4 separate regions of the Homo sapiens genome follow, and regions 1, 3 and 4 are each linked to region 2. Evidence: fine-mapped expression QTL. A gene starts in region 2. Each other region holds a variant in brackets. All regions are shown on one strand. Distances are between the middles of the regions. Region 1 has its middle 24 kb from the start of DUT-AS1. Region 2 holds the start of CTXN2-AS1 (CTXN2 antisense RNA 1). Region 3 overlaps DUT-AS1 (DUT antisense RNA 1). Region 4 overlaps SLC12A1 (solute carrier family 12 member 1).

Region 1 (8,169 bases), 160 kb before region 2:
TGTCACCCAAGTTGGAGTGCAATGGTGTGATCTCGGTGCACTGCAGCCTCGAACTCCTAGGCTCAATTGATCCTCCCACCTCAACCTCCTGAATGGCTGGGACTATAGGCTACAGGCATGCACCATCATGCCCAGCTAATTTTTGGTAGAGATGGGTTTTCACCATGTTGCTCAGGCTGAAAATCTTAAATTAAGCTTATAGTTCTGTGTTTCAGACATTTTGAGAAAAAATATTCCATACTAGAATGATGAATGTATCTTTTTAGTCCTCAGCTTTTTCTTTGTTACTGCCTATACATCACAGGCTCTTTATTAGAACTATATTTCTAGCCAATGATAAAAAACAAAAAACTACTAGTTGGTGGTACTTTTATCAAATTCCATTTGCTGCAGATATTTAGATTTTTGTTAGCCAAGACTTTCAGAACTACTGCTATGTGATTATAAGAATTTATTCATGACACCTTCAAATCAACACAATCTATTTTCTTCAGATTCTAATTAGTTATCAATATTTCAAAATTAATATTTAGCAGTTGTCAATCTTTAAATGCAAGAGATGTTTACCATGATTTTATTCTCATAATGTCCACATTATTGAAAAATAAACCAAAAGATAAGAGAAAAATGCTAGCAAATGGCTAGCTACCTTAAAAAAAGGAGGTGCATTTGATTGAGACTTTTGATTTTGATGGTTCTTATCTTATAGAATCCATTTCAGAACTAAATAGACCTAGGTATATAAGGATGAGGCAACAAAGATATTTCTTCCATTCTGTGACTTGGAATAGCCATACTCCACTCACATACAATGTGTTTTGGTTTGAAAATATGTTTTCAAAAATATGAATTACTAGACAGAACATGATAAAAGCTCTGTGTCTTCATATAGCTAGGCCAGTTTGAGAAATTATGTAAGTTTAGTAGCAGCAAAATGTTCACCAAGTATTCATTGGTTTAATATTTTTAGTAGCTTATTAAAAAAAGCTATTTCTATTTGTTTATTTGTGATGTTTGGGAAATAAACATGCTGATAATTCTTTCGTAAGATACTTTTTAAGATTGAGACCCCATGAGGTACCGAAAAAAGCATTCACTTCTCTCACACTTGAGGTCACAAATTTTTGCAAGTCAAAAATGTTGGCCATGCCAAAAACATCATGCTGCACACTACCAAATAAAAGAACACTGTTATTCTTACAAGGAAAGGTTTGACAAGACAGGAAATAGGCAGGGTCAGAGAGGTTTACTTAATACGGAGACTCATTTAACCATCATGAAGCCAAAATACAATGACAGTTAAAAAAAATAAACAAATAGCTGTTACACAAAACAAAACCCCAGGATACATGGTCTCTACTGGAACTGATTATTAGAGTTTTAGCAAATACAGGAAGTGGATAACCCCAGAGAACCCTCACAACATTTCTAGACGTCTTCTCCATTTACTTTTGTCACATGCGCTTTACTGAGATAATGAAGATTAAAACAGTTTTGATTTGTGGGTAGAAATTTGAACAAAGAAGGATTGATCTTAAAATGCTGCAAGTAACCTCATTAAAGGGCAATCATTTTAAAAGTCACATTCTCCTAAAAATGGGGAAGGAGGAGGAAGAAAAAAATGAAAGATAGGAAAAATCTAGCTGTTCATTACAATTTTCCATTTTTGTTTAAACACAGCAGGAGGGCAAAGCTGCTGGCTTCTCTGGTCCTTACAAATGCCAGGAGAGATTATACAAACCCTGCAACCACCCAAATCTTATTTAAAGTTAAAATCATTGTTCTCATCTAATGACTTTTGCCTGCTTTCACTCAAATATTGCAGCATTTTGTTTTCTGCCAGCTTGGACCCATTGAGAATTGTAGACTTATAATTGCAGATAAACTATGAAAAAACAAAAACAAAACAAAAAAACTACCTTTTACAAAAAAGCAAACATCAAGTGACATCTAGTGGTTGCTAGATACTATTTCCTAAGGCCTCTAGATAGCAGTATTTTCAACAACATATTGTCTTAATGTTGGTTATAATTTTTGTTTCCCACATACAGCCTCGGTCTTTTTTTAAGACAGAAACGCATCTGATAAAGATAGTAAAGTTGCCATTTTCTTTTCTCAAAGAAAAATTCTTTTTCTATTAGAATATAAATAAGGAAATAGCTATAACTCATGCTATCTGCATGCAAAAAAAGTTCGCAGTCTATCCCATATTAAACTTATTTGGGCAATTATCAACTGTCTAGATGCATCTTAAGAGAAGATGACATTTCAAATCCCAAATTCCTCTGTTTATCTATCATCTTTTGTTTTGTTTTGCTTTTTGAGACGGAGTTTTGCTCTTGTTGCCCAGGCTGGAGTGCAATAGCGCAATCTCAGCTTATTGCAACCTCCGCCTCCCTGGTTCAAGTGATTCTCCTGCCTCAGCTTCCCAAGTAGCTGGAATTACAGGCGCCCGCCACCATGCCTGGCTAATTTTTTTGTATTTTTAGCAGAGATGTGGTTTCACCATGTTAGCCAGGCTGGTCTTGAACTCTTGATCTCAGGTGATCCACCTGCCTCGGCCTCCCAAAGTGCTGGGATTATAGGCGTGAGCCACTGCGCCTGGCCTATCTATAATCTTAAAGGCATTATTAACTTGATAAAATTAAATTTAGTTCAATTGTTGTCCATATTTTTCTTTCCCCCACCTTGAGAACGCTACAGGGTAATTTTGCAAGAATCTAGGTCCACTTTTTACAATTTTTGCTAGTTACACCACAAGTTGTTAAAGAATAGTAACTTAAACAAGGCTACGTAGACATCAGCTGCAAACCTAATTGGGATTGGAATTGCTTAACAACGCTCCTTCAGTGATTTCATGTTTCTGAAAGGCGCCGTAGAAAATAAATGCCTTGCATTGATGTCTTGAAACTGCATTTGTGAAAGAGACAGAAAAGGAAATTATTGACTGAGAAATTGAAAGATGGTGTTTAAATTTAGTATTTTCTTTCCTTGCAAGGAAAGGAAACTTGGAAAATGCAACTGTAACCCAAAGGCCAGCTGTCTGGCTGTCCCCAAGTCTTCCAGTCTTCCAGAGTCACTCTTCATTTTAATAACAGCACACACACACACACACACACACACACACACACAGACACACACACTACTATATAAAACTCCCATCTGACTTCTATGGAAGAACTAGCATCCCTTCACCTCCAATCTTTTCAAGGATTCTCAGGAGCTCTGCTTATTCTTAATCTCGGCTGCGCATCAGGCTTCTCACTACTTTTTCTTCACCCATTTTGGCCCAGATGCAAACTCTTTTGCTTTTAGTCCCCCTCTAAAGTCCCACTGACACTAAAGGAGTGGATTTGACTGAAGTTTGGGTAATAAGAGGGGAGCTACCGTACAGATAGCTCGGAAAACAGATTAAAATGTAATCTGTGAAGTGATACAATGTCTGGGATTTGTTTCAAAATAATTCACTGGGGGTTGGGAGTGGGCAAGTAGGTAGGGATACGGAAGAAACAAAATCAGCTATGAGAGGATCATTGTTAAAGCTGAGTGATGATTACACGGGGTTCATTATACTTCTCATTCTGCTTTTGTATATGCTAGAAATTTCCATAATATAAATTTAGAAGAAGTGTCTTGGCACTCCTTGATGCAGGAAATTTCTCACTGGTCCTTTCTCTGATTAGCCTCCTACCATATTTTGGCGTTCCTGCCCCCTGCTAACCACCCCTGCCACCAACTCCTGAGTCCCTCACATCTCTCTGCCTCTCCTTCTCAGCCTGCCCAAACAAGCCCTTGAGCTCTGAGATCCTACTCTAACATTTGAGTAGCCCATCAGAATGGCTTGCTGACTCCCTAAAAATAAAGAGACCAGTTTTCACCCTAAGAGTAAATTCTGCCCCTAGGTTTACAATACCTCATTCAGGTAAAAGGAACACAACTAGAATAGCACCTGGTGTATATAGCACTTAAAAAATGTTAGCTCTCTTCCTTTTATTATTTGTATTCTAATTTAAGTTATGAAAATCAATTCTAAAATTTGGACACAGATAATTATATTAGAACAAAGCAGTTTAAAAGATGATACTCTGGCTGGGCGCGGTGGCTCACGCCTGTAATCCCAGCACTTGGGAGGCCGAGGCGGGTGGATCACTTGAGGCCAGGGATTTGAGACCAGTCTCGCCAACATGGTGAAACCCCGCCTCTACTAAAAATACAAAAATTAGCCAGGCATGGTGGCGGACACCTGTAATCTCAACTACTCAGGAGGCTGAGGCAGGAGAATCTCTTGAACCCAGGAAGCAGAAGTTGCAGTGAACCGAAATCGTGCCACTGCACTCCAGCCTGGGCAACAGAGCAAGACTCTGTCTCAAAAAAAAAAAAAAAA[G/AG]GTGATACTCTATGCCTACGAAGTAAAATGTGGCAGGCAGATGATTATTTTGCCTTCTAAACAAGAGATGTTCAATATAGACACAAATAAAACTATCTTTAAGTAATAATATTAATACGTATTTTCTCTCCCAACCACACTACAGTAGCCAAAAGGCTAAGCAGTTCTCACAGCCCCTGCTCATCAGAGGTGACCTAGAAGGCTGAGGAATCTGAACTCCCAGATGAGCTGTACTGGGGGAGAGGGCGGTGCAGGGGGTGGAACCTAGCGTGAGTACCCAGCCTCTCTTCTACCTTCGTCAGCATCAACTGGCAACAGCTCCTTTCACTTCACTTTGTCTACTTTGGCCTAGAAAACACAGGCTTTGCTTAGTGCAGCTCTGAAGTCAGCTGAGGTTAATGTTCAAACCCCACAGAAGGTGTGCGTCTGAAGAAAGGAAGTGAAGTTTCGTAAGGGAAAGGATTTTTTGTTTCAAAATATGTGTGGGGAAATAATAAGAGAATTCATCTGGATAATTATGTTAACAATACAAGGTAGAAACTGCATGTTGTCCATATTTCACATTCCCAGGAGGGAGAACAGAGATTCAGAGATTTGGGGTGCGATAAAGTAGCCGTGGCTTTTGCAGCCTCATGCCAAACACATCTGAGCAAGGGACACAGAAAAGTGGATGTGTTACCGCTGGCCTGTGCCATTGTCCCCAAACACACATGAGACAATGTCAGCACTTACTTCTAGCTCTAAATTGAAAAAACACTTCCTCTCTTTCTGCGAGCACCATTTTCCCTCCCACTCACCCCTGGAGTCTGACACAGTTTCCATTCCAAGGAGACCGGGTAATGATTCCAAGGAGAAAGGGTAACATACTTCAGCAAAAGAGCTGGCGGACAGTGTGAGACGGGCGCAGGGATCAGTTTAGGCTGAAATGAATTAGGAAACATTTTTAACTTGCCCTTTGAAGTTTTTATTGCCTTATCATCAAACGACTTCTCTTCTTGGGCTGTATATTGATTTTTCTGACTATGAAAAAGTGTTTCATCTCTTCTATGATAATCAAACAGTCTCAGTCAACAGCACCTTCTTTTTTCTAAACCATATTATTTCACTATTACACAATTATCCTACACTCCTCATCTGACAGGAACCTCATACAGCATTAGTCTTTTTCTAATATTATTTTCCCTAACATCCTCATTCCAAACATTTCCATTTCAAACATGTAGCTGCAGGGCATTATATCATTATTTGCCTTTGCTCTCATCGAAGTATATTTTATGAGAGCTTCCTGTCATTTATCCTGATCTATGCTACTATTTGTCAAAGCATCACCTCTGCTTCTCTGTCTGCTTCTCTAAGATGCCAGAAAAAAAAAAAATTTCTTCTCAACTAAAAGTTAAGCCATTATAAATCCCACAGGGATTTTAAAATGGGCACACTTGGGATTTTATTTTATTCTAAGTAGAATGTTCTTTCTGATACTCAAAGTGAATGACCTTGTAGAAAAGTATTTTGTCGTATTTCCTCTCTAGCCCATGGCACATTAGAAAATAGTCACAAAGAGTTACTATCCTATGTATTGAACAATGTGTGATTCGAAGGCCAAACTCATATTTGGTTCAGACCTCAGTAGAAATTTGGGCTAATGCCTTTCATGGATGGGGAAAGGGTTTTAGACCCAGGCCAGGAACCCTGGAGTTTAGTCCTACAACTGCTATGGCTGGTTGGTGTCCTGACACCAAATACTTCTTAGTTTCCCTTTGTCTCAGGTAGTTCATTTGTAAAGATTCACTCACAATTGCAGTTCTGCAGTTTTTCAGTGTCATTCCTACCCATCTTTCTTTCTTTCTTTCTTTTTTGAGACGGAGTCTCACTCTGTCGCCAGGGTGGAGTGCAGTGGCGTGATCTTGGCTCACTGCAAGCTCCGACTCCCTGGTTCAAGCGATTCTCCTGCCTCAGCCTCCTAAGTAGCTGGGATTACAGGCATGCGCCACCACGCTCAGCTAATTTTTATATTTTTAGTAGAGACGGGGTTTCGCCATGTTGGCCAGGATGGTCTCGATCTCCTGACCTTGTGATCCACCCGCCTCTGCCTCCCAAAGTGCTGGGATTACAGGCGTGAGTCACTGCACCTGGCTTCCATCTTTCTTTCTTTTCTTTTCTTTTTTTTCTTTTTTTTTTTTTTTTTTGAGACAGAGTCTCACTTTGTTGCCCAGGCTGGAGTGCAGTGGCATGATTATGCCGCATTGTAAAACAGCCTCGTTGCCTGGGGTAATTACCAAAGGTCTGCATCCTCAACTTCCTGGGCTTAAGTGATCTTCCCATCTCTCAGCCTCCCGAGTAGCTGGGACTACAAGTGTGAGCCATCATGCCTGGCTAATTTTTTTAGAGACTAGGTTTCGCTATGTTGCTTAGGCTGGTCTTGAACTCCTGGGCACAAGCAATTTGCCCACCTCAGTCTCCCGAGGTGCTTTGATTACAGATGTGAGCCACCACGCTCGGTCTCCACCCACCTTTCTTTTGCCATCCTCTGTGCTCATTACCTGGCTTCTTAACCTCATTGTCAGACATTTGATTAATATCAGTATTGCTGAAGCTCAGCTCTAGTGATATTATTCTTAGTCCAAAACTCTTCTGTGACTGGCCATTGCCTCCTTGACGTTTAGGACCCTCTAGAGCAGATCTGCAACCTACCATTCCAGAAGAGTTACCAACAATTCCCTACATGTCCTTTATACTCCAGTCCATTGGAACTTTGGTTTTGCCATTTCTTGAATATACCTCATGCCCTCTTTGTATTTTCATGCACATCATATATGTCACACTACCTATATTTGCACAGATGCCTATATTTGTCTTATTTCCCCTGCTACAGATGGTAACCTTCCTAAGGATAACTACTACCATTTATTGACTAAATACTTTTGCCATGGACTGTGTAAGATACTTTACACCTATCATCTCTAGGTCTTCTAATAATGTAAGGTGGATATTATTAACTTTATTTTTCAGATGGAAAGGCAGACTCAAGAGGTTAGATGATGTCCTTAAGGTCACACAGCTAGCATGTCACAGCTTATGTCTTGGTTGTTTCACCTACATCATCTAGAAAAACACTAAATTGGATAAACAATAATGCTGACACTTGCCTGGCACATAGATGCTAGGCAAACACAAGTATGCATGAATGATGGTGATTCTATCCCTTAAATACAGCTAGCTCACCTTAGATAACTGCCACCAGGTGGCAGTAATTTGCCACGGCTGTACAGTCTGGTCTTATTCAAGATTCGTAAAACGGGAGAGGGGGAGAAGACTACCGAGATTATCCGACCGACTCTCTTTATTTTATGATAAAAATTGAGGATCTGGAAGTTTACTTTATTTATTGAAGATATTTTAGTTAGTAAAAGAACAGAGCTTAAACTCAGATGTAAAACTCCCAAAGTTACTATTTTTTTCATTAGATCAGGCTCATTTTTTACTTCAAAATTTGTAATTTATAATGTTCCCATATATTTTCAATATTAAAAGTATTTGTTAAAGCAGTAAATGCAATACAAATTTAACAAAAGTATTTTATAATAAAATTTTAATCGTTTCTTAGTCAAGTAATATAGTTTTCATGTTTAAAAAATGTTAAAATAGGCTGGGCGCAGTGGCTCATGCCTGTAATTAATCCCAGCACTTTGGGAGGCTGAGATGGGCAGACCATGAGGTCAGGAGTTCAAGACCAGCCTGGCCAACATGATGAAACCCTGTCTCTCTAAAAATACAAAAAAAATTAG
Region 2 (8,169 bases):
TATATATTGGCAACTCGGAATTGATCTTTGTTGCAAACCCATAATTAATTATTTAACAAGTAATTTGTCAATATTTAAGAAGTCATTAAAAGTTAACATGAGTTTAATAGGTAATGCCAATTCACTTCCTTTTCAAAAGTTTGCTACTAATATGATGAATCAGAGAAATAGCATGGACATGGTTTAGTTATTTTGGCAATGCATTTAACAGTCTCCCATGATATCTTTGTGGGGAAGATATGAGATATGCCTGGATAATAGTGTTTTTATGTAGATTCATAGATCTGAACTACCCTAATAAATATCGGGTTCTATAATCATGGACGTGGGTCTCCAGTGTGGTATTACAAAGGTTTCACTTTAATCTACGCATGTTTTCAGTGTTTTTGAACAGTGACTAAGTTGAAGATATTGAAGTGAAGCTTATTAAATTTGACAAAGTGTGGCTGAAATATGATAGCACATGGAAAAAACACTCAAGACAATTCTGATGCCTAGAATTCTGGGTTGAAGCTAGAACATAAAATTTAATAGAAACACTTCTAAAGCCCTTTGTTTAAGTGGGAGGGAAGGAGATGCACCAAATCCAAACAGGGGAGATAATGACTTGGCAATTCATGTAAAATAAATCTGTAAGCTGCAATTAGTCAAGTTAGCCTGAGCCAAAGATATGAGGTGGTGGCTTATAAAAGCAAATGTCTTAAATTGAATAGGGGTGCAAATGATAGAAAGTAATAACATTATTATAATGTGTCAGGCCACATATAAAGTAACACTGCATATATTCACTATACTTTCATTGAAACATATTTATTGGGTTGCTAGTATGCTCTAGTAGACATGCACTCCTCTACTTAAAGGGATTCCAACTAGTAAGGGAGAAGAGCCATGTACACACAAGGAAAGAAACAACAACATAGGCTTCTACAAAAGCAATAAAAAAGGAAGAGGAAGCCAACTTGTATTTAAAATCTACTGTGTATCAAATACTGCTTTACATATTTTATTTTATTCCCACAACACCCACATAGTGTTGATACTATCTTCAACATCTTGGTGAAAAAAAAGAAGATCCAAAAAGGATAAACAAGTTTAGATGAAATCAAGATATCACCCATTGAGGGATCAGGAAAGTTTTTCTTGCAAGAGATTGTATTTGAACTGAGTCTTGAGAGACAGAATGATTCAAATCTGTGAAGAAGAAAAAAGCATGACAATAAATATGAAGGCAGAAAAATACTGGATTTTTTCAGAGCACAGTGAGCAATTTGGTACAGGCAAGGGGGAGTATGGGAAACAAAGCGTTGGAAAGGTAGGTTGGAGCCAAATTGTGAAATATGTTGACTGTCAGGCTAAGAGTTTGAAATCTATTTGCTTAAAGGCTGAGTGGCTTGATGATGAGACTGAAATAGACATAATTTTGAGGGAGAGAGCATCACGGGAAAGAAATGGTTCAGGTGAGAAGCAATGAGGGTCTCCACTAGGGAGTAGATGTATGAAAGAGGGTAGAGGTTGGAAAGATATTTAGAAAAGTAGGAGGGATAGGATTTGGAAAGTAGTGGGCCCAAGGAGAGAGAGGCATCAAAGATGACTCTACACTATTAAGCTCGGACAAGTGTAAATATAGTGTTTTTATTAATCAAAACAAAGAAAATAAGAGCAAAGCATAGACTTAAAAAGTAAATGACAAGTTTATTTCTGGACTTGGTGAATTTGTGGTACTCATGTGTGGCACTTAGTAGGCACTCAATTGTCAGCTTTCAATAAATTTATCCAGATCATTTTGTCTAGCATAAAATTTTTGATGGGGAGAATATTTTAAGGTATTGTTGTCAAATAACGTTTGTGTAGAAGACTTTATACAGGATGGAGAGAGCCCAGTACATAGAAATATTTGCAGATCAAAACTTAAAGAGAAGAAAAGAATTGTTGAGTTTTGCCTAGGAAAGGGAAGACCAAGAAGGACAATAGGTAGACTCAAATATTTGAAATATTATCTTGTAGGAAGCCAGATGGACTTGTTCTAGATTGATCCAGAGAGCAATTTTACTGTAATTCCATTAAAGTCTATTTTCTGTTACCAGAAAAGATTAAAGATGGAAGAAGCCTAGCAAGGAACTCCAAGGAATGCCTCTCCTACAAGGAGGATCTCCTAGTGGAGTTATATAAGATGAATCATGAGTAAATCTGTAGCAGAAAGTTCACCTATAATAAAGGAGGCTAGGGCTTCTAGAATGAGGCATTAGCAAACAGTGTCAAATTCTGCAGCGGTGATGGAAACTAAGCACTGGAAAACAGGGTCTTATGGTTGGCATTCAGAATTATTTCATCATTATAAAAATTTAGTTGAGAGTCTAGGAGGGACACTAAATTGAATTGGATTTAGGAGTGAGGGGTAATGAGAAAATGGAGTCAGGTGGTAAATAAACTTGACAGAAAATAAGTTTTACTTAGTCGGTACAGAAGGTTAAATCATATGATGAATCACTTTCAATAATGAAGACATGACTGCATATTCAGTTTTTAAAGGAAGAGCTCCATAAATTTACCTGGATTCAAAGAACTGTAAAATTTCCATTTTTAACAAAAAAAAAATGGGTTGAGAAAGAACAAATGTTTTATTAATATCTTAAAAGAGAAAACAGGCTTTTATATTTATCATAAAATATACTTTATACTAAAGATGAAAACAAAATACAGGTCAAGGAGAGCAACTGAAAAAGTAATATTCAAAGGCTGATTAAAAATTTGTCCATTGCTGCAGGCTGTGCCTACACAAGCAAATAGAAGTAAAAAGTTAAGCAATTGCCTAACAATGTGTTCAGCAAATAGATGGTTTTAGTAATTTAAACCATATATATAGCAGTTGAAATATCAGTATTTCAGGCCTAAATTTTTCAAACAATTGGCCAAACTTTCCATTTTACTTGCTCTGTGAAATGAAGAACTTGTCTCATTTCAACAACAAATCCAAAGTTTTTGAGGATATACTGTTAAGTGTGCCAAGTCCTGCTTTTCTACTGATATAGAGCATAATATGATATGAAAATATTGTTAATAACAAAATATTATTAAAAACAAAAGTCCCCAGTTATAAAACTGATTCATTCACAATTACTAAGGTGTTCAAAATACTCAACAGTTATAGATAAAATATGCATTTTCACTTTCTCTAAAAGCTGGAAGAGCTATTCACAACAGACACTGTAATGCCTAGCTCCAGAGAAGCATCATTTTAATATCCTGTTTATTGGGAAATAGAAAAAAAAAGAAATCTGAGAAAATTTAGATTAAGTTACAAAACCATATATTAAAAAATCCATATAAAAATAGTTAAGAAAAAATGAACTTTCAAAAATAAGTAGAATGTAAAATTGGGTAGTGGTAAAAGTTATTTGAAATATATTATACCACAAAATTGGGTAAAATAAACAATGCACAGTTTAAATATCAGGATCAATATATATAATGATTAAAATATTTAAGTGTCTTTTAATACTACTGATGCAAATGATAAAATATTGTCTTGAGCCATATTCACTGGAATAAATGGTTAGGTACTTTGGCAATGAGTAACTTGGTTGAAAGTACATTTCCTTCATGGCAATTGTCAGGCACCAAGATTTCTAAGTACTGATGAGTCATAAGATTGGGCCAGGGGTGTTCCTGTAGATATCAAATAGCCCAAATCTCATGAAGTTGCTTTGTAATTGGCAACTAGTAAGTAAAAAACAAAGTCTTCCTATGATCAGTACTTACAAATCATATCTCCGTAAGCAGTTAAGCAAAGATGATAGTATTTTTATACCTGATATGCAGCCTTTCATATTCATGAATATTGTTAGTGATGTTTATGTCTTCTGTGAAATAACCTTACTAGAGATATAAAAATATACCTTTCAGATAAAATCATTTAATCATGCAACAATGCACAATTACAGAAACTAATGTTAAAAAGTGTGTACCCATTAAAGAAAGAACCTCCTGTGTTTTATTTTAATCAACAGGTTTTTCCTCTTGTTTATTTCTCTAGTAATGGTATTCCAAACAATAAACCTGAAATAATAACTATTAGAGTGGAATATGATGTTCTAGGTAGAAAGTATTTTAGCACTGGTCATTAGATATAATAATCTCTACTGCTAATGATGACATTCATAATTTCATGAAATAAGACATATAAGAAAACCCAAGCTTAAAAAATAATGAACCATTCCATACATATACACACTCCACACAAAATATAAAGATTATATCCCAGTAAAAGAGAGAAAAGAAGCATTATTGAAACCACATCTGCACAGAGGTAGTTAATCATTAAGAATCGAATGTGTTGGAATAAAAGGAAAACCTTAAATTACAAACCTAGATGTCTTCATCATGGTGAAATGCATAAATTTCAGGGCTTTCCAGAGATCCCAGACCTTAGGATCTGCCAGAATCCACCCCTAAACCCTCAGATTTCAACCTTAAGAGAATTTCTCTCTTAAGAGAATCTTTGGATGGCTCAAGGACTCTGACACTCAATCCTTCCAACGCACTGGGAAACCTGGTCTGAAAATTCTCCAGATATCTCATTAAAGAAACCTAGACCATCATCATCATTCTGCGTTGTTTGTTTCCAGGTCTCTTTCTACGCACTAAACCGAAGAAGCATGGAAACTTCCTACAAAACATTATGGGAGAAGCATCAGCAATCTGCACGTACACAACACTTTTCCCCCGCCTGGCAGCCGCATCAGCAGTGGCGCTAGCATTAGGGGTGCTGTTTCTCCTTTAGAATTTGAACTTATCAGACCTACTGGCTCCTCCACCCACCGCCCCACCCCCCGCTCTTTTGCTTCAGAAATACAAGAGAATGAGGACATGCTTCTCATCTGGACCTGCATTTGGAACGCTGTCAGTTAATGCGGAGGGAAGGGGGAGAAAGTTACTTCGCAGACAGCGATGTCTCACCTTCCATGCTTGTTGCCATGGAGATGAAGTCCAGCCAGTAGACTTAAGTGTTGGCACGTTTGTCTGTGTTCGCTGATCGGTTCAGTAACAAATGTAGAAGGCGTGTTCTGGAACCTGCGTAGAGTCACAGGGCCCTGGTTAGCGCTTTCCTGGCCTAGAAGTGTAAATGTCTGTGTCTGTTGGTGAGACAGAGGACGTGGGCGCCCGCCGAAGTACGTGTGCGCGCGCGCGTTTGCAGGAAAACGTGCATGGATTTCTTCGGTGTGGCAGTGTGTAAATATTTGCGCTCGCGTGTGTCTGTGGCAGCATCTGTGTGTGTATGTGAGACTGAAAGGAGGTGGGAGATGAGGAGGGGAAGGGAATCAGCTCCAGCAGCAACAGGCTCTATTCTTCAGTTCTGCTAAAAGAAAGAGGAAGAGAGGAAGAAAAAAATAGACACTCCTTTTTTTTCTCACGACACACCCTGAAGGTTAGCAATTAGATTTCATCATTATCTTTGTTTACTAAGGCAGTGAGGGTTTAATTGATTTACTGCTGAAATCCTTGTTTTGCTCTCTTTGCTGCATTCCTGGCTGTGCTGCGGGCATTTTGCTGTGCTTTGGTGACAGCCGTTTTCAGTAGAACAGTAGGCACTAAATTCTTACACGTTTCTTCTTATCCGGTAAGGAAAATTCAGGAGTGAAAGGTGTATTGATTTAACTGGAGACTGAATGTGTCGTTTGGAGTTCTTTTCCTCTACTCTTTCCCTTCTCTCTTCCACACAAACACAACTGAATCCCCTTCCGTTTCTAGGAGAAGGCGCCTAGGCGCTGTCCGTAGTGCTGAAATGGTGCGTGGTGAGACCTGTCTCCCCAACACAAGCTAGAAGACAACAAAATAGCAGCCAGGAAACGCTCTGATAAAGCTCTAGATAGCTGCCAGGTACGTTTTCTAAACAGTGTTGAATATGTAGATTCTAAACCTAACCGACGTTGAAAGCAAGGTAAAGCAAAGCAAAGCAAAGGAAAACAAAAAAACAACAACAGAAACCTTGCTCTTTATCCTTATTTTAGGGGTCTGGCCGTTTCAACAAACTCAGTTACAGGGTTCCCAATTCTATTTATGTTTTGCGACTCTATCCAGAACCTACAAGTTGCAAGCACTTTTAGATTCCCTACAATCTTAATTATTCACCTTATAACTACTGGACTGTGAGTCGTTGGGGGAAATGTAGATACAGAATTGGGACACTCATCTAAAGAAAATACTTTGAAAACGTAATGTAACTGCAACTAGATTCAATAACAAAGTGAAGACAAACTTCATGATTATTTAGAGTATTTACTGATTTAGGAAATGTAATGGTCTTACAAAAAAATGGGCAATGTATAACTGAGAGTTCATATAAGACCACATTTTTTAAAAGTTGTTTTTTGATTTTAAACTATTAAGATGTCCTAAAATGTAGGTGAACTAACTGCCCTCTATGAAAGACTGAAAGACATATCTTATTCTAGGGACATTTCCATGGCCATGGTTTTATTGACCCTTTTTAAACTTGCCAAGGGCCACATTCTTTATTAGCACTCTGGGCTGGAACAGTGCTTCTTGAAGTATAACATGCATATGAATCTTCAACGATCTTGCTAAAATGCAGACTCTGATTCAGTAGGTGTGGGGTTGGGTCTCAGATTGTGCTTTTCTGACAATTTCCTAGGTGATGCCAGAGATTACTAGTTTTGGGACCAATTAAAGTAGCAAGATGCAGCCAGGAGTGGTGGCTTATGCCTGTAATCCCAGCACTTTGGGAGGCCGAGGTAGGAGGATCACCTGAGGTGAGGAGTTTGAGACCAGCCTGACCAACATGGCGAAACCCTGTCTCTACTAAAAATACAAAAATTAGCTGGGTGTGGTGGTGGGTGCCTGTAATCCCAGCTACTCAGGAGACTGAGGCAGGAGAATCACTTGAACTCAGGAGGCGGACATTGCAGTGAGCTGAGATTGTGCCACTGCACTCCAGCCTGGGTGACAGAGCGAGACATTGTCTCAAAATAAATAAATAAATAAAAATAAAGTAGCAAGATGCTAGAGATATTGAATTCTGGCAATGCAGTCAGTCATAGATTGTGGGAAAGGAGATCATTTTATTCCATCTATTATTCTATGTATGTTTCCAAACTGTTACAAAAATAATTTATTCAAAATTAGTTCAGAGACTAATCATGTAAACATTTTGTCTGTACAGTATGAACAATTTTTTATGAATTTGATTCCTTTGATTTTGATTTTGACATTGTCTGGACCAGTGGTATAGTTGAGTCTGTATTTCCATACTATGATCTATAACCATTCATTCTCTTTGCAGGCCGAGCTCAAGGGAGCAGAACTAAGTTACATGATTCTGCTGCGGATGTATAAGCACCACTCCAATAATTTATTATCACGGTTGGAGACTTTGACTTGTCACTTTATGACTTGAAATATGGCTCCATGGTAAATGCCCATAAAGCTGATTTTTAAAATCTGGATATTACAGTTCTAATTCTCACTTAGTTTAAAAGGTAGAATAGGCTTCTTGTTTCATAGATCATTTGTGTGAATGTTGATTTGTTATGTCATTGACATCATACACACATGCTTACATTTTGAAGGTTGCTAGCGTTTCCCATTAATGCTTCTGAATTGATGCCAAAGGAAAGCATTGATTATAAATTAGGTTCCTTGGTATTAGTTGGTGCATGACCCTGACCCTTTTCAAGCTATATGAAAGGTAATGATGCTCTCAAAAGCCTGCAAAATGGCTTATTCAGGAAAGCATAATGGATTAAAAATCCATTAGGTTCCACTTTCTTTGCTAGATGCTGAGATACAAAGATAAATGAGATTTGGTCTCTGCCCTCGAGGAGATACGTGGCAAAATAATATGGTAAGTTCTACAAAGTTCTATACAAACACAGATTAATATGCTATTCATGTTTTATTAGCCATTGCCAAAGAAGGGATGAAGAACTGCAAAAAGATAAAACACAGAATACTTGTACTTCAGGTCCTTGCCAATATCTACTGCCCAACTTTTACAAAAAAAATTGCTGAAAGGCATGAAATATATGAATGCCTTTCTAAAGCACATGTGGATAATCTATACTTCTGGAGCATCTATGATTTATTTTCAGAACAATCCAAGTTATTAGAAAGGTAAATATGTTGGTGACATTGTTTAGAAGTTCCTCAAGC
Region 3 (8,169 bases), 120 kb before region 2:
AGCCCTTTTTCCATGTAAGGTAAAATTCACAGATTTCAGGGATTAGGACCTGGATATCTTCAGGGGCCGTGTTCAGCCTACTACAGTGTATCTAGCAGGATAGTTTTGTTTTAGATTTTTTCTGTTTGTTTGTTTTTTTGAGACAGAGTCTTACTCTGCCACTCAGGCTGGAGTGCAGTGGTGTGATCTCAGCTCACTGTAACCTCTGCCTCCTGGGTTCAAGCAATTCTCCTGCCTCAGCCCCCTGAGTAGCTAGGATTATAGGCACCCGCCACCATGCCCGGCTTATTTTTTTGTATTTTTAGTAGAGGCTGGGTTTCACCATGTTGGCCAGGATGGTCTCAAACCCCTGACCTCAAGTGATCTGCCCACCTTGGCCTCCCAAAGTGCTGGGATTACAGGTGTGAGTCCCCACACCTGGCCTTGTCTTAGATTTTTATAGGGAAGAGTAGACAAGTTATAGGTGGAGTAAATTTAAAGTTGGGATTGTTTATTTCTGTGTCTAGTTAGTTTCATGAGGACAAAACTTATCTCAGCTAATCATCCATGAGACAAAGAATAAAGTTAGAAGGTGTCTGTCTGACCTTATGTGCAGGCTCAGTTTAAAGGGGAAAAGTCTGGGTTTGACCTTGTCACAGGTAAACAAAGGAATCATCTACAGTCTTGTAGGAATCATGAGAAAGAGTTGGCAGTGTCTTGTCTAAGTCATATAGGGAATGGTGGTTGATTTCAGTTAGCCATTTCTAGAACACAGAAAGCTGGGGAGACTTCTTAACGATTGCTGTGTTCCAGGAGCACAGGGCTCCGGTAAAGTTCAACACTGTCAGCACCTTCTTATCCTTATGTGTTTTTCATAGACATCCTCACTGAGTACCCTAATAAAGTATTACTATTTCCATTATTCTCTGTCACACTGATACAGAACAGCTGGGCTCCTGGCTAAACCCCCTCCCCACCCCACCCTTAAGCCTGGAACCACAGCCCTAAGTGAAAATAGCTGACCCTGTTTTTCCACCCAAATGTTACTTTTTTGGCCTGCCACGCCCCTATCCTGTTGACATAAAAAGACTTCAACTGGCAGAGCAACACAAGCAGCGGAGCGGTGGGGGTACAAGCTGCTGAGCATCAAGACTATGGATAGATGTGGCTAACTTCAGACAGTGTGGCTTCAGGGAAAGATCACCTTCTTCCCACACCCATCCCCTTTCCAATTCCTTATCCTGCTGAGAGCCACTTATATCACCCAGTAAAATCCTCCGCATACACCAACCACCCTTCTATTCGTTCTTGTGGCCTGATTCTTCCTGGATGCCCGGGTACGGAGAGGGCAGGGGCTTGGATGCTGCTATAGGGCCTGCACAGAGCGTGCTCCTGCCAGAGAGGAGTAATGGGCCAGTTCCAGTGTTGTCTCCGGTTGCTGCACTCGCTTGCTCGCAGGCTCTCTTTTGGGAGGAGTGGCCGACAGTGGGCTGAGTGAAAGGAGCCTCTCCAGTTCCCGCCCACAAAGGGCATCAAGGTCAACAGAGTTATCCTGTCTCAACACTTTCTCTTTATTTCCTTCACAGTATTTTTCACAATTTGTAATTATTATGTGTAACTTGTTTTCTTGTCTGTCTAAACCTTTAACTTTTTGAGGGCAGGGAATGTGGATGCCAATATCTTAAGAGCTCAGAACAGTGTATCTTTGTGTCTTTACAGCCTGACACATTTTTGTTGAATCAATTGACAAAAGAACTGACACCAGATGGCCAATCAACTCAAGAGAAAGTGAGTATAGTAGTGAACTAAATAAGGATAAAAATAACAGTGATTGAAAAAAGAGGCTGGGCGAGGTGGCTCACGCCTATAATCCCAGCAGTTTGGGAGGCTGAGGTGGGCAGATCACAAGGTCAGGAGATTGAGACCATCCTGACCAACATGGTGAAACCCTGTCTCTACTAAAAATTAAAAAATTAGCTTGGCGTGGTGGCGGTGCCTGTAATCCCAGCTACGCTGGAGGTTGAGGCAGGAGAATCGTTTGAACGGGAGTGCGAGGTTGCAGCGAGCCGAGATCGCACCATTGCACTCCAGCCTGGGCAACAGCGTGAGACTCCGTCTCAAAAACATAAAAAAAAGAGTGAGGCTGGGTGCGGTGGCTCATGCCTGTAATCTTAGCACTTTGGGAGGCCAAGGTGGGCAGATAATTTGAGATTAGTTCAAGACAGCCTGGCCAACATGGTGAAACTCCATCTCTGCTAAAAATACAAAAATTAGCCGGGCATAGTGGCGCATGCCTGTAATCCCAGCTACTTGAAAGGCTGATGCATGAGAATCGCTTGAACCTGAGAGGCAAAAGTTGCAGTGGGTTGAGACATGCCACTGCACTCCAGCCTGGGTGACAGAGCGAGACTCCATCTCAAAAAAAAAAAAAAAAAAAAAAAGAGAGAGAGAGAGAGTCAGAAATCCCAGGCAGCAGGATAAGCATATTCAGAGCTCTGGAGAGTACAGAGTGTGTGGTGCGTCAGGGCATAGCTGGTGTGGAAGGGCCCTGAGCAGGGCAGAATGCGGCTTCATAGTGAGTCAGAGACCAGACCCCAAAGGAGTTTCATACTTGCCATGTCCCCTCAGTGCCCTGTATTAATTCATCGTTCCAACAAATATCTGTTGAATGTGTTCCATGTGCCAGGCACTGGTCTAGACTTTGAGGATATGGCAGGGAACAGAACAGACAAAATAAGTCTGACAACAGATAGAAGATGTGATTCAAATGAGTAGTGCCGAGAGTTAAGGAGAAAAGTAAAGCAGGGAGGGAGGTATGGGATTTAGACTTCTGATTTCAGAGAGGGAAGCCAGGGAAGGCCTCAGTGAGAACATGCTATTTGCTGATTGTGGGGCTGGGGGCTGGGGGTTGTTTTACCTAACTTGAAGGAAGTGATATCTTGGGGAAGGGCATTCCAGGCAGAGGACACAGCAGGCACTAAGGTCCCAGGGTGCAAACTCACCTGTAAGAAGGCCAGTGTGGTCTGAACAGTGACAGAGGAAGGCGTACACAGTTGTAGGTGTTGAAGTCGCAGAAATAGGTGGATGGGGTGCAGGGGTAGGGCCTTGTAAGCTCTTGTAAGGACAGTGGCTTTTCCATGGACTGAAATGGGAAGCCATTAGAAGATTTTGGTAACAGGAATGACAATCTCTAGTTTACTTGGCAGGATTGCTTGGGTTGCTATGAGGAAGAGGAGGAGTAAGGCCTGATGTGGAAAGACCTTTGAGAAGATGTTGAAATGAGGCAGAGGAGGAGCTAGGCCTGATGTGGAAAGACCCTTGAGAAGGCTCCTGCAGTGATCCAGGTGAGAAATGGTCCAGTGGCAACATGGGTCAGAGAGGCAGAAGTGGAGATGGTGACAAGTGAGTAGATTCTGGATATATTCTGAAGCCAATAGGATTTGCTGATAAATCAGATGTGCGTGTGAGAGTCAAAGATGACTCGAAGATTCATGGCAAGGATAGCATTGTCATGCATGGAGATGAAGGAAGAGTGTTAAAGAGCACCTTTGGGAAGGAAGAGTAAGAGCTCACTTTTGGACACATTAAGTCAAAAGTGCACAAATAATACTTTTTTTTAGTAGAATTCATTTTGTAAATGTATCTTTGAGCATTAGGAAATCACAGTATGG[T/A]GATCTGTTTCCAATGTGCGTGTTGTGTTAGCAGCTGGAGTTGTTTAATATTTTTTTTTGTATTTGTTTTTGTTTTTTGTTTTTTGAGACAGAGTCTTGCTCTGTCACCCAGGCTGGAGTGCAGTGGTGCAATTACAACTTACCGCAACTTCCGCCTCTAGGGCTCAAGTGATCCTTCCCACCTCAGCCTCCCAAGTAGCTGGGACTACAGGCATACACCACCACACCTGACTAATGTTTGTTATTATTATTATTATTTTTTTTTTGTAGAGACAGGGTTTCACTGTGTTGCCCAGACTGTTCTCGAACTCCTGAGCTCAAGCTATCCTCCTGCCTCGGCTTCCCAAAGTGCTGGGATTACAGATGTGAGCCACCGTGCTTGGCCTAACATCTTTAAATACCTGTTATTTCTTACTCCTCTGAACTTCTCACTTTCCCTGAGAATAATTTTACCACCTCTTTGTTGGGCAGAAGTGCAATAGGAACATCAGAAAGTGCAAGTACATAATAACAGAGAAGTCAGTCTCTTTTTCTTCATCTCTTGGGCATCGAAAAGAGCAGATGATCCAGATTTGAAAGTCTGGGAAAGCCATGCTGTGTGAGAACAGGGGCTTGCATGACAACAGAGGGTTGGGCTTGAGCCCCCAGGGTCTGCAGCAGTCTCACAGTTTAGCAGTTACTTATGCCTTTCTCTCAAAGTCAACTGCTGAGTTTTGTCCCAAACTACCCTCTGCTGCAATATGTCTCCCAGGCTGAGGAGGAAATTAGTCTTCTTATCCCAGTTGTCATTGCTTGTCACCTTCTCTGAAGCAATGACATTCATGACCTGGTTCTTGGCCTCAACCTCTGAGAAGTTCTCCTTTCTGCATTCCTCATCTTAAATTACTTAACCTGAAAATATACTGTTTAAATCTTACACTGGAGCTCCATATACTCTGCTTAACTGCAGAAAGAGTCTGTCTATGTAAATTAATTTTCCAGATAACTGAAGCTTAGCCATCTTTTGATGCCAGCCATGTGGACGAGAATTTTTCTGAGGGTGAATTGCAGTGCAGGTATCCTTGCTTTCTTAACCAGGATACATGGAACAAAATTGAGCTTTTCTGCCATTAGTCTGTCCTCTTACAAAGTAATGATGTCCTCAAGCTCTACTGGGGTGTGTAGAATCTCTTTCACGTTTTTGACCTCAGATTGCTGCAATTTTGTGCTCTATATTTCCTTTGTTAAAAGTTTTTCATGTTTTGCTGCATTATCCCTGGTGTCACTTATGGCTAGTTACTGCTCATTTAACATTTTGTTGACTGAAAAACAATGTAACTAGAATTGTGTGCAAATGTTCTGTATGGAAACATCATTTTAGTACTTGAGGATCTCTGAGGTCTTTTTCAGGTTTAATTTATTTTTATGGTTCTAGATATCCCTCCAAATGAATATGATCTATTGTGCATGCACAGAGAGTGGAACTTTTTGGGGGACACTTCATGGACCATTTTTAACTTATCTAACTCCCAGCTTGGCTCTTCATAGCTGATATATATGATCTCTAGAAATGTGAGATAGCAATATTGAAGGCAGGATTCTAAGATGGCCTGTGTAATCTCCTCCTCTTGAGTCTGGGAGGGACCTGTGAGTATGGTGGGGTGCCCCTCTAATTATTAGCTTACTTTATAAGGAAAAGATGAAAATTTTTGCAGATATAATTAAAATCCTTAATCTGTTGACTTTAAGTTTGATCTTTTTAAAAATTATTTTATTTTATTATTATTTTTTTTTGAGAGGGAATCTTGCTCCCGTTGGGCAGGCTGGAGTGCAGTAGAGCGATCTTGGCTCACTGCAACTTCTGCCTCCCGGGTTCAAGCAATTCTCTTGCCTCAGCCTCCCAAGTAGCTGGGATTACAGGCACGGGCCACCACACCCAGCTAATTTTTATATTTTTAGTAGAGATGGGATTTTACCATGTTGGCCAGGCTGATCTCTAACTCCTGACCTCAGGTGATCCACCAGCCTCTGCCTCCCAAAGTGCTAGTATTACAGGTGTGAGCCACCATGCCCGGCCTTTAAGTTCAATCATAAGGGAGATTGACTAAAGTGGGCCTGACTTAATCAGGTAAGCCCTTTAACAGAGGGTCTAGAGTTTAAAGATTTCTCCCTGGTGGCCTTAAAGACGCAAGCTGCCATGAGTTCTATAGCAGCAAGAAAATTAATACAGCTGCCAATCACTTGAGCTTGGAAGAGGATCCTGAACCTCAGAGGAGACTGTAGCCCTAGCTAAAATCTTGATTCCAGTATAGTAAGATCCTGAGCAAAGAACCCAGTTAAGATATGTCTGGCCAGCCATAGGGCTCACACCTGTAATCCCAGCACTGTGGGAGGCCGAGGCAGGAAGATTGTTTGAGGCCAGGAGTTCTAGACCAGCCTGGGCAACATAGCAAGACCTTGTCTCTACAAAAAATAAATAAAATAAAATAAAATAAAATAAAAGATATGCCTGTACTCTCGACCCATGGAAAGTGTGAAATAATAAATGGGTACTGTTTTAAACCATGAAGTTTGTGATAATTTATTATGCAGCAGTAGAAAATTAATACACATCCCACTTGGGTTTTGTGTTTAAAAGGATGAAAGAACATACTATACTCATAATGCATAGATTCACACAATTCAGTCACATTATAATAATTACCCTATCCTACTATGGATAATATCAATTCTGAGTTTTATTTGGCCCAGAAAATAAAACTCAGAACCTATTAAGATTATACTTGGCTGAGTATGGTGGCTGCTGCCTGTAATCCCAGCATTTGGGGAGGTTGAGGTGGGAGGACTGCTTAAATGCAGGAATTTGTGACCTGCCTGGGCAACAGAGTGAGACCCCATCTATAGAAAAAGGAATAATAAAACGAAAAAATAGTTCAGCATGGTGGCTTGCACCTGTAGTCCCAGCCACCTGGGAGGCTGAGGTGGGAGGATCACTTGAGCCCAGGAGTTCAGAGGCTTCAGTGAGCTATGACTGCGACACTGCACTCCAGCCTGGGCAACAGAGACTCTGTCTCCAGACAAAACAAAACAAAACAAAACACAGCACAAGATTATACTTGTCTATTCCTGAGTTCCAGAAAGTAAAATATGCAATATGAACCTACTGACCTAAATAATGTCTGCAGGGCCATAGTGGTAAATCTGATGCAATATTTCTCTATCACTTTCTCCACCCAAGAAAGAGGCATATATATATTTTAAAAGATCTCATGTTTAAAAAAAAAACAAAACTAAAAACCTAAGCTTATCAGTAGGTATGTGATGGGGTCAACTTTTTCTTTTTACAGTGACGTTTTAGTTGCTCACTTATTTTACGAATAAGCACAACACAATAATGATGGTATAATATATTTTTGAGTGTTAGAAATTTATTATATATGACCTTCACAATATATGTCAGATCAAACATGAGTTAATCATTAAATACAGTCTGGCAGACAAGTAGCTTGTTTATGGATTTAATTATTTAAATGTTAGTTTTTGAGTAGTTATTATTGTATATAGTAAAAATGAAATCTCTTACTTGTCCTTCATTCAGTTTTCTTCTCCAAAGTCAACCCTAATTGGTTTCTTATGCATTCTTCTAGAGGTACACTATGCATTTACAAATAAATATTCAAAAAATATGAATAAGTAAATGGTAACTAATGCTCACTAAATTGGATTAATTAAATTAACTGATTTCCTAGCAATAAGATATATCTGTATTCCTAGAATACCATATTCCTGATTATAGTGGAATATTGTTTGAATACATTGGTAAAATTGAGTTGCTAGTATTCTATTTTGGATTTTCCTATGTTTATTCATACAAGAAATTGACTTGTATCCTATTTTTGTGGTCTGTCATATTTTGGTATCAAGTTTATGCTAGTTTTGCAAAATAACTGAGAAAGGGAAAGACAATGTTTTATCTTGTTCTGTTCAGCAATAGCTTAAATATAATGGTAATTATATTTTCTTTGAAAGTTTAAAAGAAGTTGCCTAGAAAAAATCCTTTGGGTTGAAACTTTTTTGAGCTAGATCTTTGACAATCTTCGTGTTTTATCCTGAAGTATTAGATTTTATCAGGTATTCTATTTCCTTTTGAGTTAATTTGAGTGGTTTATATTTTACTACAAATAGATATGTGTATTGTAATTAAAAATTTACCATACTAGAGTTTTAAAGGACATTCTTTCCCAAAGTTGAACCCAAAGTCCCTTGCTTATTTGTAAATGTGTATATTTATATTTTATCTATTCTTCTAAAACTAAAAAGAAGTTTTTTTATTTGATGTTATTCCTTTTCTTTTTTAGCAACAGCAACAAACAACAGTTGAGTTTGTCATTTGAGCTGTTACTGTCTTTATTGAAAATAATAATGTCTGTGCTTAAGTATTTACCATAAAGTGCTGAGCCCAGTACTGTGCTCATCTATTGACCCACATTATCTCATCTGTTTGCAACAACCCTAAGAGATGCATTCTCTTAATCCCCGT
Region 4 (8,169 bases), 74 kb before region 2:
TGTCTTTTTCTCCACTTGTAGAATGGGAAAAAATATTAGTACTTCCTTCGAAATCTTCTTATGAGAATTAAATGAGATAATACATGTTAAAGACATTAGCCTGCAGCCTGCTAGTCCTTTAAGATCTATCATTATTACTTACATCCTAAGTCTCCTCAAATATTTAGCTATTAGAGGTTATGTACCACCGGAAACTCACATTCTGTGCACAAGCCAATGATGCTCCACCTGGTAGCAGAAGCACCTGGCATATGGGAGCCTCTTAGCAGAGGGAGATATAGGGCTCTGGGATAGTGAACGAATTATCAGAGGCTCAGAAGAAGACAATGACTGAATTGGAGACACCAGCCAACCCAAGATTCCAGGTGTTTTGAAAGAAAAATTTCTCCTTGCTTAGCTGTGCTTTCCTTTTAATCTTGTAAATAGATTTTAAGGTTGTAACTCTAAACATTTACTTTTTTCTCTGACACGGGCGTTTCTCTCACCCTGCCTCCTCTGACACTCTGATTCCCTCAAACTCTATTATTGGTGGTGTTTTTTTCACCTTGGAAAAGAAGTCAGAGTACCAGGGGAATGTACTCTTCTCAGGCAATTTAATCTGACACAACAGTGTTATGTGCAGTACAAGTTATGTACTGCCCTGCTTAGTGCTTTATAAACAAGAACACGTCTTGAAAGCCATCACTTACTGTATGATTCCCACGTAGTTCTCAATCTCTGTCAAGGGAGCTTTCCTCCAGTTTTTCTTATATCCAATCACCAGAGTGTTTGGTTTCATTCTTCCTAAGCCTGAGGCCTAAACAGAGGACATAAAAATGTGGGCAATCCTTACCGTACTGGGAAACTACCATCACAAATGAAAAATAATGTCTAAAGGAGCACTGAAGTAATGTTCTGAAGATCCTGAAGATTAGATTACATTTTAGTGCATGTCCTTCATGCCCGTACCCAAGCATAAAATGGAAAGATTAATTCTAAATCATCCCAGCTATAAATGGATTTTAGATGACAGAAATGTAGCTTTTCTAAATTAGCAGTCATTTGCATTTCTTCTGACACAGTCATTAAAATGGTTCAATAATTTAAAATCAAGTGAGGGTCAGCTTAACTGTTGGTATGCATGTTGTAACTTAGTGGTTCAAAGCTCAATTCCACCTGTTATATCCATAATGTCATTAGCAATAAAATCCATGTTTGGAAAATTCTTATGTACAAGGATCACTAAAATCTCTACTTATGTTATTTATTGAAGAGTGACTGAATTATGTTTCCAAAACCTAATTCTTTTATGTGACAGTATCATTAATAGCCATCTTCCATATCAGAAGTGTTGTTTCCCTTCATTAGATGACAGCATACAGCTTCCAGTTAATCAAATTTAATTCAACAATATTACTAAGCACCTATGAATTGCATAGTGCTATGTCTTGTCCTTTTGCCATGGTTCTCCTGTACTTCACTTTTTATGTGAAGAAATTCATATGAATGTATGCATGTTCAAATTTTCTACCATTTCTTCTGGATTCTAATAATTCTTTTTCATACTTGTGTCTTTTCTTTCCCTGCTCTTATTTTATGTCCATATTCCCATTCCTAGTTGAAAATATTATTTTAAAATCTTGTATGATAATTTTATAATAAATGACTAATAGTGACAACATATTTAACCAAAGAGCTATTGAAAACTAACTTGGTACTGAAAGAAAAATCAGCATCTTGCAATAACACCTATTTCCATGGTTTAGCAAATTAATAACAGATGAAAAGAGGCTCATTGTGGGTAATAGGTTTTGCAGAAATTGTTTCTCTGTACGTGCATCTACTTCGCAAGTGTTCTTAAGGGAAATTAGGCACAGGATTGCATCAAATACTCTTAAGCTCCAAAATATTACCAATTAAGCTTAACCAATATTTTTTCTTTCCTGCCTGCATGCGCATCTGAGTTACCTGGATGCAGTTCTGACTTCTGACACTCTGAAATACAGTAACTCTGAAAGCCAAATGCACCATTTCATATATATATAATTAGGGTTTTCAACCATATTAAACCCAAAATGCTCGGAAAGCCAAGCTCTACAATTTCTGAGGGTCTCTTGGATTGTTTTAAGGATTCTTTGTCACTCTAAATTATGACGATCAGAACTAGGAAAAGATTTTATGTACTTACTATAGCAGAGATGAAGGAAAAAGGAAAAAATAAGGGAAAAAAGATGTGAGAACTATGGGATTTAAGGTTGAGCTGTAGAGATTATTACATTTTATTCAACATTCTGGAAATAATTCAGGAGGATAGGGAGATTTTATGCCCAGATCACCATGCATTAATTTAGTTGGTCTAGCAGCTGCCCTAACACCATTTGCAAAAGAAAAAAGGAAAAGAATGCCTGACTTGAGCATTGCTATATGCAGTATGAGATATAAAAATAGTTTGAAGTTTCAATAGGATCCTGAATGTCGTCAACCACCAGAACAAATTTGCATTTCAATAAGTACGGGGGCAGAATGTATGCTGGTGGCCAAAGGCAACCTCATTTTCCGTTTCCAGTGTATCATTCATAGTTCATTGTAATAGAACTTCTCTGCTTTTGTTCTAGCTTTGCCTATACCCAGGAATTCAAAATAATCCCTTAACCATCTGCACTGATCTCTGATGCTTGGCTGCCTAACTACAGCTGTTCACTTTGGGAGCCTTATTAACATGGAGCACTAATTGTCTTTTGCCTCTGTGCTCATTCCCTCAATGCAGCCTTACCTGAAGAAGACTTCGGACACCATCCCTGAAACAGTCTGCCGCCACTGCAGCATAAAAAGCCTTGATTTTGTTCTTTATAAGCCAGGCCTGTTTTTTCGCCATGCCACTGTTCATCTCCTTAACACACAGTTTGCGCGGTCCCTGTGTGACACAATGAAATATTGGTTAGAACCCTGCTATTATATATCACATTGCTGTTGTTTTCTAAAGGACAAAAATAGCCAGCAATGCCCCATTGAGTTAAGAAATGGGAAAGAGGGAAAAACACCTCACTGAACAGGGTTCCACAGATTCAGCCTTTTGGAGATGACCTGCGGTATTCACACCATTCATTTTCTACCCAAAACATCTAGACTGATTAACATCTGCTTAATTTACTGCCTGACACTGAATGAAAGGAAGAGTTGAGGGCAACATGACACAAGGAAAATACTGAAAATGTGACTGAAGAGGCTTAGGATAAATACACAATCAACCTTTGACTCATTAGCGAGAGCCACTTTCAGGAACACGAAAGAAATCTCAGCTGGAGCCTAATTTCAAGAAATGGACAGAGCTCCATGGGAGGTAGAACATGGTGACCTGCAAATCCTGCCATGAACTGCACATCTTGTCAATTCTATTTGGCTGATGCGTTGCTTTTTCGTGTGGCAAAAATACCCTTATACCACTTTTCCCTGTGTAATGTTGCCACACTTCCATTCAAATACATTAACATTTCCTTGTCATTCAATGAATTTGGTGGGAACAAAGGTTTACGTACCTATGACCTAAGAAGAGTGGAAGAGATTAAGAGGGAAGAAGACAGGTGTTGTGATGGTTGATAAGGCATTTTATAATTTCAAGATTTAGTTCTGGAAACACATTTTTAATGAAAAATTCTATTTTTATTTCTCCTTCCTTAAATGTCCAAGCTAGTTCTTTTCTTCTCATGATGTAATTCAATCCAAAAGTTATTTCTGATTATCTGCCATATGTCTGACAGGGTACAAATCCATTTTCCCAGGAAATTCTTTTAATTTATAGAGAGATTTGTATTTTGTTGAGATGGCTTAGATTTTACATGAATCACTTGGGATCTTGATAAAATGCAGCCTTGTGGGTATTGAAGCAGGGCTCAATATTTTGCATTTCTAACAAGCTCCTGGAGGCAACAGATGCTGCTGCTCCTTAGACAGACCACACTTGGAGTCACGGTCTTAAAGGGTCTTAGATTGGAGAGAAAGGACATTGGGATGCATGAAAAAAAAAAAAAA[G/AG]CCCAGGCTTTGCGGTCAGACAAAACAGGTCTCAGATCTAAGCCTGAGGAGGTAATTCCTTATCTCTGAGCTTTTGTATCTTATCCTTAAAATGAGGATAAACTCTTGCTCGTGCAAGGTTGCTTTAAGTAGTAATAATAAAGTACCTAGTGCAATGTCATCAAAGCCCCGGATGTGATTTTACCACTGTGCTTGCAGGAACACTGAACTGTGAGTCAGAATGTTGGGTTGAGATCTGGCACTGACTGGCTGACACCCTGGGTCTGCCATTTGTCCTCTCTTGAGGTATGTTCTACATTGATAAAACTCAGGCAATTGCCTAGGTCATCACTGCCCAATATGATAGCCTGTATGTCCATGCTGCTATTGAACATTTGAAATGTGGCTGGTTCACATTGAGATATGCTGGATGCATAAACTACACACTGGATTTCAAAGTCCTACTACAAAAAAGAATGTAAAATATCTCATTAATGTTTCTGTATTGATTCTATATTGAAATTACAATATTTTGGACACACTGGGTTAATACAATATTATTAAAAATAACTTTACCTATTTCTTTTTCCTTTTTAATTGGCTACTAGAAAATTTTAAATTACATATATGGCACATAATATATTTCTATTACACAACATTCAATCTCTGGGGTCCCTTCCATTTTAATATTCTATTTAAATTGGATCAGACTCTTTATATTCTTATTTTTTCCAGCATATTTCCTAGAACCTGCCAACTTTTCAAAACAGTTTGGTTGACTTCCCATTAAAGGAAAATTTAAAAACAAGAAACTTCCATGAAGATAGAAAAGATAGAGAGATTGGCAGGGTAGTTACTAAACTAGATGACCTAGTCTAAGGAAAGATATGCCATTATGGATCAATTTAGCTCAGGTTTCCAGATTGTCAATGCATTTTGAATCACTAGTCCTTCTTTGAGCATTCTAAACTTCATCAACTGCAAAAAAAAGAAAGAATATTTTATTCAAGGAAGTTCAGTGGTTACAGCAGCCATTAGATAGAAGAATAACAAACAGGAAATACTTTGAACCATCAGTGTAGTGAGTTGTACCACAGTGACTGTGAACCCCTGGGGAGAATGGCATTTATTTAAATAAACACAGTCTAATGTATGTCTGTTAGTATTATAAAAATCCAGATTAAACATTAATTGTGACAGAGAGATTTACTTTAATGCCTAAACTTGCCATATTGAGAAGTCATAAAAATGTTTCATGCAGAATCTCTCTTTGCTAAAAACGATTATAACATCATTGTAGCACACTTATTAATGTGAAGCAAGGAAGGCTGCAATACAAATGTGGTAAGAATAAAGCAAACTAGCAAAGAGAAAAGACATACTGGAATACAATTATTCAACATTCAAATATGCCATAGTTACAAAAATGAATTTTACTACCCCATTATAATATTATAGAGATTAGCTTCAGTTGGGATCCAAAATATGAGTATATAAATTAATTCAGGATTCAAACAAAGAAGCTTTAAAAATCTTGTATATATTATAACTTTGATATTAATTGAGAAAGGGGTAAAGCATTTCTAATTATGTAGTGTGGAGAAGTTGATGTGATGTTACTTTAAATACGTGACTATCATGAAAAAGAGTTTGTAAAGGGGTTCCAACCCCATTCGGATCAAACAGAGGAATTCACCAAGTGCAGTATTCCTTCCAACTTTTTTCTTTTTTTTAACATTGAAAGTCTTATTAGTCTGTCTTTGTTTTCATGGATGCTTTGGTTGGAATTGTGGGAAAGAAAATTTTTCCCTTTCTGATTTGGTCCATATTATCTTACCATACATGCTAGTGCCCATTCATAGGTCATTTCATTCTTTCAATATTTGGTCATGTCACTATTTTATTAACATCATAACAGAGGCTCACTGATAAAAAAAATAAGATGCATCTAGAAAGAATACATTTTTTCCTTGGTGGATGTGAAATTTGAGATTAAGAGGAGGCTGAAAGATAGAAGAAGAAATGAGAATTTAGTTTTCCCTGGGTTATAAGGGCTTGAACTGCCTTCCTTATGCAGTTCAAGAGTTAAGAGGTAGGTGTCTTCTGTGAGATTTATTGAGAACTCCTCAAACAGAGAATTCAAAGAGAGCCTTAGGTTTTCTTAAGATATTTTATAATTTTTTAGAAAAAAAACGAGAAAAAGAAACAGGGTAAAAGTCTAAGAGCCGGTCAAAGTCCATCCCTTTCCTCCTTTACAGGAGAGGACAATCAGGTTTAAAGTAACATTAATGAATAAGAAAAACATGAATGAAAATAGATTTACATTTTGGTATCCGTGTGTGAAATGATGAGAAGAATACCCATAAAATTCAGATAACATTGCCTCTGGGAACAGAGAGAACCAGGGGTCTGGAGTGGTATTAAAAGGGGCTTTAACTTGATCTGTAATGGCTTATTTCATTTAAAAAGTGAGTGGAGGGCCGAGTGCAATGGCTCATACCTATAATGGACTTTGGGAGGTCGAGGAGGGCAAATCGCTTGAGCCCAGGAGTTGGAGACCAGCCTGGGCAACATGGCAAAACCCTGTCTCTACAAAAAATACAAAAATTAGCTGGGTGTGGTGGCACATGCCTGTAGTCCCGGACACTGGGAAGGCTGAGGTGGGAGGATTGCTTGAGCCTGGGAGCTCAAGGCTGCAGTGAGCTATGATTGCGCCATTGTACTCCAGCTTAAGTGACAGAGGGAGACTCTGTCTCAAATAAATAAATAAATAAATAAATAAAAATAAAGTGAGTAGAAGCTTCTATAACCAATTTTTTTTCTTTTTTTAGGCAGGGACTCACTGCATCTGGCCCAAAATGTTAACAGTCATTAATTAGGAAAAGTAGAATATAAATTAAAGGTCTCATTTAATTTTATATAGTGAGCCATATGAAACTGCCAGTATCAAACGATTTTGATCTATAAAAATGCAAATTTTATATGATTCAACCTAATTAATTTTTTTAGTGTTTCAAAATTTAAAAACAGAATCAATCTTTTTAAAAAATTCTTATTTCTTCAGCCACCAGCACAACATAATGTACTTGATAAAAGATGCCACTGTAAACCTGAAAGCCTTTTGCAAGGTAAGACAAGCAAAATTGAGAAAAGAGGTAAGTGGCGTGTTTTTGGACAATAATGACTTTATCTGATTTGTGTTCCAAATCCCAGGTCAATGGAATCGACTTTCAATTCAATTAACTTTTGATCCTTAAATGTATATCTGTTTATTCATTTTAATAAAAAAATTCCTATTTTTAAATGTAAAATTGAGAAGTATATGAATAAGGAACTGCTGCAGTATGATGCCTTTGCACCTGGGAAAGGTAAGTGTCAACTGATCCCATAAGACTTCTAGAACTGAACATAGTGTGCCCAGAGAATTACAGGTACATAAATTCAAATTAAGTTATCTGGGATGATTGGTTTGGATATCTCTGCATCTACTATGAATGACATAAGTGAGGAAACTCATTGACAAAGGCAGTGCTTATATGTGTCAGGATACATAGGGTAAAACTGGTGGAGGATGCAACTTGCAACTTTTAACTAATAACTTACCTTTTGCTGAACCTGTTGAACTTGGCTATGCTTAGAAATATGAGGGGGATGCTACAAGGTGGAGTTTTCCTCCCTCTGTCTTCCTATGGTGATAAAAATGATAGGTACAAAAGAACAAATGACCCACATATTTAATATAAAGCCTATTGGGATAGAAATATGTCATTTATTTATTTTGTTAGTTCAAAAGAGAAGAATAGACAGTATTTTTTAAATTACTGAGCTGGATTCTTTAGAATGGGTCCCCAAATTTACCCTGATGAAGAGTTGCTCACTTGAAATCTTTAAGCTGAATAGTAAAAAAGCAAGAGAGAGGAAGAGGCCTGCGGAGAGTGTTAAGAGTTAGCTGGATAGTTGGAAGGCCACAGCGGGTGCTTGGGGCCCAGCAAAGAGTACAGCTCTCTTAATTTCAAATAATGATTATTTGAAATTAATTTCAAATCAAATAATGATTTACCATGCTGCAGTTGCAGGAAATGACAGCTGTGGCCACACATTTTCCCTCTACCCACCCACATCAAAATGCCAATGAGTTCTACGTCTTGCTCCTTTCTGGTAATGTAACAGCACTTAAAGCAA

The links. PIP is the estimated chance that this variant, and not a neighbour inherited with it, causes the effect.
Region 1: its variant is fine-mapped to the expression of CTXN2-AS1 in whole blood (INTERVAL, PIP above 0.99).
Region 3: its variant is fine-mapped to the expression of CTXN2-AS1 in whole blood (TOPMed, PIP above 0.99).
Region 4: its variant is fine-mapped to the expression of CTXN2-AS1 in whole blood (INTERVAL, PIP above 0.99).

Annotation. Positions count from the first base shown.
Region 1 is chr15:48,352,105-48,360,273 of GRCh38, reverse strand. No RefSeq gene overlaps it. Among named protein-coding and RNA genes, the nearest start is that of DUT-AS1, 24 kb to the right of the region's middle. The variant G/AG (reference allele first, on the strand shown) is at 4,385.
Region 2 is chr15:48,188,641-48,196,809 of GRCh38, reverse strand. It overlaps CTXN2-AS1 (CTXN2 antisense RNA 1), which reads left to right and starts at 5,101. Exons shown (of 3, transcript NR_184082.1): 1 at 5,101-5,225; 2 at 5,749-5,877; 3 at 7,301-8,169. It overlaps CTXN2 (cortexin 2), which reads right to left and starts at 5,145. Exons shown (of 2, transcript NM_001145668.2): 1 at 4,957-5,145. RefSeq lists an enhancer at 4,638-5,141.
Region 3 is chr15:48,308,493-48,316,661 of GRCh38, reverse strand. It overlaps DUT-AS1 (DUT antisense RNA 1), which reads left to right. Exons shown (of 3, transcript NR_186809.1): 2 at 1,699-1,767; 3 at 3,921-6,194. Among named protein-coding and RNA genes, the nearest start is that of DUT, 19 kb to the left of the region's middle. The variant T/A (reference allele first, on the strand shown) is at 3,651.
Region 4 is chr15:48,262,285-48,270,453 of GRCh38, reverse strand. SLC12A1 (solute carrier family 12 member 1) reads right to left here. Exons shown (of 27, transcript NM_000338.3): 18 at 2,753-2,893; 19 at 690-796. Among named protein-coding and RNA genes, the nearest start is that of SLC12A1, 60 kb to the right of the region's middle. RefSeq lists a silencer at 4,116-4,316. The variant G/AG (reference allele first, on the strand shown) is at 4,009.